Linked DNA regions of Homo sapiens. The protein of the gene in region 1 interacts with the protein of each later gene in a pairwise test. Each region holds a gene or a part of one and is shown in the gene's direction. Other genes may lie near its edges.

Region 1 (3,652 bases):
GGATTATAGGCGTGAGCCACCGGGCCCAGCCCCTCTTCTTCCTCTTTATCCTCCAGGCCCACCCCGCCACCTTCCCCAAACTCCAGTCCTATACCTCTCTCTATATGCAGATTTGGGCCCTGTTACTCACCTGTTTCATCTACCTTTCCATCTAACCGTGCACTTAACTCAATATAAATCAAGTGCCAGGCCCTTTGGGAAGCTCTGAGGATCTAGTTGGGAGTAAGACAGATTCCCCAGTTTTCACTCATTCAACAAATACTTATTGCACATCTACTATGTGCCTGGCGTGGTGCTGGGCACTGAAGATACACCAGGAAGTAGATCCAGTCCTTCCTTTTCTCCCTCCCTCTCTCTTGGTCATTCATTCATTCACTCACTCTCTCACAAACCTCTGTTTGCACTGACCTGGTTGCACAGCCTGGTGCATTTTGCTGACCCCTTCATTTTTGACAGAACCTGGCGCTTGTTTCAGCGCTCAGTGCTGTTTATAGAGCTCGGCAGCAGACTTTGTCACACCTCATGCTGTTTGTAGAGTGCCTCACTGTTGCCAGGCCCTGGCCTGTGACCCCAAAGTTCTGGCTCTAGCAGATAGGCAGACGGACAGACGGACAGACATAGACAACTGAGCTCCACTTTCCAGCCTGCTCTCTCCCACCCTGCTTTTTTCCAGAGGCTTGTTGGCACCGTGGATTGCACTTTCAGCTCCCCACCCGCCCATCTGCAAAGTGGCCTCATTGGTGTGCCATTTTTACTGGTCCAGTCCCAACTAGAAGGGGCATGGCCTGGCCATCTACCCCAGTTCCTCTCCATGTCCCCGTGGCTCTCAAGTGTCTCCAATTCCAGCTGTCCCAGCTGCCCTGCGCAAGAGGAGGCGTGTGTGGGCGAGGCTGCTGGGTTACCTATTAACTCAGCTGGGAGTTGAAGAGCCGATGGGCAGCAGGCAGACTTGAGTCTCCTTTCTGTCCATGGGCTCGGGCCACTGTCTTAGGTCCACCCGTGGCTCCAAAATGGTCTCCTGGTCCGTGATAGCAAAGATCCAGGAAATACTGCAGAGGAAGATGGTGCGAGAGTTCCTGGCCGAGTTCATGAGCACATATGTCATGATGGTGAGTGGGTGGGCAGCACGAAGTGGGTGGGGCTCCGCCAGGGCCGTCCATGACCCCCTCCCCATGCTGACCCCATGGGTCACATTGTCCATTCCTTGCCTCTGAGCTGGGAGCCTGGGGAAGCAGCAGAGGAAAGTAAGGAGGGGGGGCTTTCTCATCAAGCCTTTTTGGACAGAAAGGGCTCATAATATGTGGGGGTCAAATGAAACCATGCACTGGGGTATCCGGGGCACGGCTGGAAATGGGGAGAAGGGAAACCCAGGATAAAGAGATTGAAGAGGCCCAGGTGCGGTGGCTCATGCCTGTAATTCCAGCACTTTGGGAGGCTTAGGCAGGTGGATCACCTGAGGTCAAGAGTTCGAAACCAGCCTGGCCAACATGGTGAAACCCCGTCTCTACTAAAAATACAAAAATTAGCTGGGCATGGTGGCGGACGCCTGTAATCTCAGTTATTCAGGAGGCTGAGGCAGGAGAATCACTTGAGCCCAGGAGGCGGAGGTTGCAGTGAGCTGAGATCACACCATTGCACTCCAGCCTGGGTGACAGGAGCGAAACTCTGTCTCAAAAAAAAAAAAGAAAAAAAAAAAAAAAGAGAGAGAGAGATTGAAGAGAAACTTGATGATCGGGCTCTGATAATGAATCCAGAGGGCAGTGGGTGATGTTGAAGGCTGGCAAGCAGGGGAGTGACATGATCAGATTTGGGTTTTAAAGGTAATTTTGGGTGCAGTGTGGAGCATAAGCAGAACAGGCAAGGCTGGCAAGAGGGAACCAGTTAAGAGGCTGTTTTTGATCTGGGACAGAGAGAAGGTGATGACTGGTTTGGGGTTGGAGAAGAAAGCACATGTTTGAGAGGGCTGTGGAAGACAGAATCAGGGAGACTCTGCCAGCAGAAGATGTGGGCAAAGCGCCGATGAGCTGTTCTGGAGCACGGGGCCCAGCACAGGGTGAGAGGTGAGATGCCTGTGGGGAAATCCAGGAGATAGTTAAACACATGCAAGGGGCTGGAGCTCAGGAGAGGCTTGGTCTGGAAGGAAAAAGTTGAAGTTCATCACAACACAGGTGGTAGTTGTCAATACTGTCCAGAGACAGTGTACAGAAAGAGAAAAGGATGGGTTGAGGACAGAGCCCTGAGGAATGAAGAAGGGCATGCAAAGGAGCCTGAGAAGGAACGGTCAGAGAGGTGGGAGGAGAACCAGAGCAGACTGCATGACAGAGGGGGGCAGTGGTTCCACCAGGAAGAAGCCGTCAGCGGCGTGGGCAGCGGCAGATGGGCCACGCGAGGTGAGTACTGGCAAGAGGCCTTTGGGTTTGGCAACGTGGAGGTTGCTGGTAACCTTGACAAGGGCTCTTCTTTAGTGTGTGATTGGGACAGAATCCAGACTGCAGGCGGGATGTGAGGTTGCTCCCTCTCCACCTGCTTCAGCCCTGCCACTTACCCCAGCGAGCCTCTGCCCTTAACGTGACTGTAGCCATGTTTATTGCATCTTATGCAGGGTCCAGGGTCTAGAGAAAGAAGGGGCAGCCTCTGGGAAGGGAGGCAAAGGCAGCCAGGTGCATGCTAGAGGAAGGTGGGGTGAGAGAGGCTGTTTGTGTGTGTGGTGGGGCCCATGGAGCTCAAGGGAGACAGGAAATCGGAACACCGGGGTTCTTAGCCTGACCCTGCCACTGAGTGACCAGTTGGCCTTGGGCATGTCTCTGCATGGCTTAAAGCCTGACTTCTCACTTATATCATGTAGAATTAGGCTTTCGTGGGCTTTGGAGCTGTGTTTGAATCCTAGCTCTGTTATCTTCTAGCTGTGCGACTATCCACAAGTATCTTAACTGTTCACAAATTTAGCTTTCTTATTTTTGAGACAGGGTCTCACTCTGTCTCCTAGGATGGAGTGCAGTGGTGTGATCTCAGCTCACTGCAGCCCCCACCTCCCATACTCAAGTGACTCTCTTGCCTCAGCCTCCTGAGTAGCTGGGACTACAGGCGCGTGCCAGTGTGCTCAGCTAATTTTTCTATTTTTAGTAGAGATGGGGTTTCACCATGTTGGCCAGGCTGGTTTCGAACTCCCGAATTCAGGTGATCTGCCTGCCTCAGCCTCCCAAAGTGCTGGGATTGCTGGCGTGAGTCACCTCGCCCGGCCCACAACTGTAGCTTCCTTATTGGTTAACAGGAGCACTAACATCAAACTGGAGGACTTGTGTGAAGAAGGCCAAGTCTCAGCACCCAGTACACCTGTGGTACCCATGTATTGGTCCCTTGTTATTAGGACGGGTGCTCTAGCTGCTCTCTCCTCTCTGCCTCTAGCCCTCCTTTGCTCCTCTCCTACCTCCCCACCTGCTTTGGCTCCTGAGCTGTGAGGACAGCAGTTGGATCCTGTCCCTCCTTAATCCAGGGCAAAGTAATGATCTTATCACAAGACATTCCAGCCCCATGAGGGCTGTTAACCCTTGGAACCTCGGAGGCAGGAGGGTGCGTCCTCTGAGAGCTGTTAGGGAAATAGGCACCGCCCACATGCTTGATACCTGCCCACATCTGTGTTCCTCTTCCTTTT
Region 2 (3,652 bases), on another chromosome or scaffold:
AAATATGTATTTTTAAAGTGATAAATAATGATTTTTTAAAAATCCAGCCAAGTATAAGAAAAAAATTAAATAAGTCCTAATTTTACTACTCAGAGATAATCCCTGATAACACTTTGGTGTCATTTTTATCGAGTCTTTTTCTAAAATACATTTTATTTGAGCTACATAGATTTACAAATATAAACTGTACTATATCGAGAGGTTTGTGTCCTGCTCTTTCATTTAACATGATGCATTTTACCATGTAGTTAAGTTCTATTTTCCCATGATATGGATATAAGATTTTATTTTTCTCTATAGCTTATTTACCTATTTTCACCATAACTTATTTAACTGTCCTTATTATTGATCACTTACTTTGTTTCAGTTGTGATTGTTGTGAAAAGTGTTGCAATAAAAATCTTTACATTTAAGTCTTTGCTTTTCAGAAAGTTTATGTTTTTACTCTCAGTGAATGACAATGCCTGTCAATTCTCATACTCACCAGCATTGAATATTTCCATTTTAAAAATTATTGGTATGGTATGTATGTTAAAGTATCTATCTTTTTTATTTTTATTTATTTACAGACAGGATCTCTCTCAGTTACCCAGGCCGGAGTGCAGTGGCGTGATCCTAGCTCACTGCAGCCTTGAACCCCTGGGCTCAAGTGATTCTCCTGCCTTGGCCTCCTGAATAGCTAGAACTACAGGTATGAACCACCATGCCTGACTCATTAAAAAAAAATTGTAGACATGGGATCTTGCTTTGTTGCCCATGCTGGTCTTAAACTCCTGGCTTCAAGTGATCCTCCCGCCTCTGTCTCCCAAAGTGCTGGGATTACGGATGTGAGCCACTGTGCTCAGCCACTTTTTTATTTTATGGGCTAAGTAATAAACCTTTTTCTGAAACTAATTATATCATTAGAATTGATAGCTTATGGTAATTCTCAAGTTATCAGAACCCTAACAGCAAAATAAAACAATTTTAGATTACATATATGGGAAGGTACTAAGGATATAAATTATTCTTTTAGACTATAGCACATTTAGGGGATGTAAGTAAAAATAACTGATGATAGTCCAGGGCTATAGGAAAATGTATTATAAACCTTGAGATCTATATTCTGGTCTCAATTGTAAACTCATAAAAGGTCTGAGAAAGAAGCACCCATACATTTCTGTTTAAACTGCCTTGTCTCGTGTATAGATTGTGCTTTATTTAACCCTCTTAACTTCCTCAGTGTCTAATAGTGTTAGAATAGCTCTGTAATGTGAACTGTTACTTTTTCCTCCCGCTGGGCTTGTTCTAAGACAGGAAGCTTATTTGAAAGGTAGAAGGAAATGAAGTTCTGGGGCCTGCTTCAAATTTATATTATAAATTATGCTATATTGGCACAATATTTAATCAGGAGTCTAAAACTAATAAGTAGGAATCTGCTTCATGATGGCTGATAAGGTCTGAGGAACCTAAATTATAAATTTTTAATTGACATTTGATTATTTTCTTCCACAAAGTGAAAGTGAAAATCTAGTTGGTCTTTATTACTAAAGTCATCTTTATGGTTATAAGCTATTTCCTCCAACCCTTAAGAGATCAAAATAATTTGTTCCTTTTTCACCCTGTTAGCAAGTTGAAAGGAAATGTTAGAGAGGATTTCAGGTCCTTTCTTTCAGATTTATGATGTTACAAATATAAGTAAAATGTTTCTACAGAATATTTTATTTTAAGTGAATAGTTATTTCTTTCCTGGAGATAATGAATTATCATTCCAGTCCATATTACAATAGTGTGTTCTCCAGTGAACCAGTGCCTCACAGGCCCCCATCAGGCTGTAGACATGAAAACAGACATGAACATAAATTCATGAGCACAGATGGATGAAATACTAGCCTAGTTCAAGGGTGGTGCCAAATAATTCTGGGAAAAGTGCTTTTGGCATAATTGCAAAATAAGACCCAGAGTTTTAATGAAATATCTGGAATAAAACTACAACTACCAGCAACACCAAATGTTCATATGTTGCTTTTAGATTAACAGAATGCTTTCTCATACTTTATTTCATTTAAGCTCTAGAATCCTTCTGGGAGTTAATTGACTTAAGTTTGTATGGAAAAGGAGGCTTAAAGAGGCACTGATTTATCAAAGCCAGGGGGATGCAACTGGGACTTCTTTTGACTCTACTTCCTAAAATGAATTTTTGATCACATTAAACTTTAATAAAAATTTATATGTTTATTGTCATCAGGTGCTTGTCAAAATAAACAGTATTGAGAGCTTACAGGGGTAAAGGGCAATATGTTATGTTCTAGATTCCTCCCTCGAGGGGTATACAGTCTTGTTGGGCAAACGAGATATCTGTAAAAAGATAGCAATAAAATTACCTATAAATCCTACAGTAGATGTGAGAACAATCTCTAGAAGTAGAGGAAGGAGTGAGGAAAATGTTTCAAGTGTATTCTATTTCCAGATGTTATGAAAGGTCCCATTAGATATAGTGAATTCATAAAGTACTGTTTGTTCTGAAATGATACCATCACAGGACTTCAGTACTGGATCATTAGCGGTAAGATCAGCACACCAAAATAAAAGTTCAAATGTTGGGAAATCCTTAGCAAGGTCACAGTAGCAAAACCCTGCCAATCTATTCATCCTTTAAGATTGGCTCGAGGCCCCACACCACAGACCCTCTGTGTACATCACCTGTGCTTGCTCCTGTTTGAACATTTAGCATAAGGTGTTGTGATTGTGTGTGCCCCCGTCTTCTTCTCGCCTCTGGGTGTCATGACAGGGACTGTGTGGCCTCCAGCATGTGTCCTACCTACTAGTGGGTGCTCGATCTATAGCTGTAGGGTTTTTTTGGTTGTTCAAATGAATGTCTTTTTTTCAGTATAATTCCATTGTATTTTGTGTTCTGTCGTCCCTCAGCCTGGTATTCAAGGCCCTGTGCCATCTGTTGCTGTCTGGGTGGCCTCATGTGCCCTTTAGTCTTGGGATAAATCTTTTACGGATCCTCTGCTGCCTTTTCTTTCCTCTACCCTGGAATAGTTTTCCCACTCATCTTTGCCTGTGAATCCTGCCCATCTTTCAGAGTTCAATTTAAGCCCCTCGTTTTCTTGACAACCCCTGTCTGAAGTATGGACACCCTACTTGGAACTCCAGAAGCATGCCTATTGTCCCTAATATCTTTTAGTTAATAAATTATATAGGGCTATGTGGCTTTTCTTCCATTATTATTCTGACTTTTCATTTAACCCTTTAGTGGTGTGTGTGTGTGTGTGTGTGTGTGTGTGTGTGTGTATGTGAGAGAGAGAGAGATGTGGTTTATCATTGCTTGTCAATGATAAAGCAAGTCTTTGAGGCCTAAGACCTAACTTTTGGGATCCCTGTCTCATAGCTGCACAGTGCATTGAGAGTCAGTACCTGCTAAGAGCAGCACTGCTACTCATTCCCTATGTGACTTTGGGCTGGTTATTTGCCTTCTCTGTGCCACAGTTTCCTCATTGGTAAAACTGGGAAAGGAATCATTTCCACCCCAGAGAACTGTTGTGAGTATTAAATGAGTTAATACATGCTAGGTTCATAGCAAGTGTTACTTAAGTGTTATTGTATTGTAGTTGGTAATAATATGATAGTATAATCCACTGATTCCCTGTTGAAGTGCAAATATGTT

Evidence for each region. Proteins that work in one complex are often made in the same cells at the same time.
Region 2: the proteins of AQP7 (region 1) and MFSD6 interact in a two-hybrid assay, tested with the Homo sapiens proteins (one large-scale study listed by BioGRID).

Annotation. Positions count from the first base shown.
Region 1 is NC_000009.12:33,392,535-33,396,186, reverse strand, and holds part of AQP7 (aquaporin-7), read left to right. Parts: intron 1-673; exon of another isoform or gene 674-968; coding exon of another isoform or gene 969-991; coding exon 992-1,109; intron 1,110-1,909; exon of another isoform or gene 1,910-2,060; intron 2,061-3,652. UniProt on the Homo sapiens protein: Aquaglyceroporins form homotetrameric transmembrane channels, with each monomer independently mediating glycerol and water transport across the plasma membrane along their osmotic gradient. Could also be permeable to urea.
Region 2 is NC_000002.12:190,414,723-190,418,374, forward strand, and holds part of MFSD6 (major facilitator superfamily domain-containing protein 6), read left to right. Parts: intron 1-569; 5' UTR 570-691; intron 692-3,652.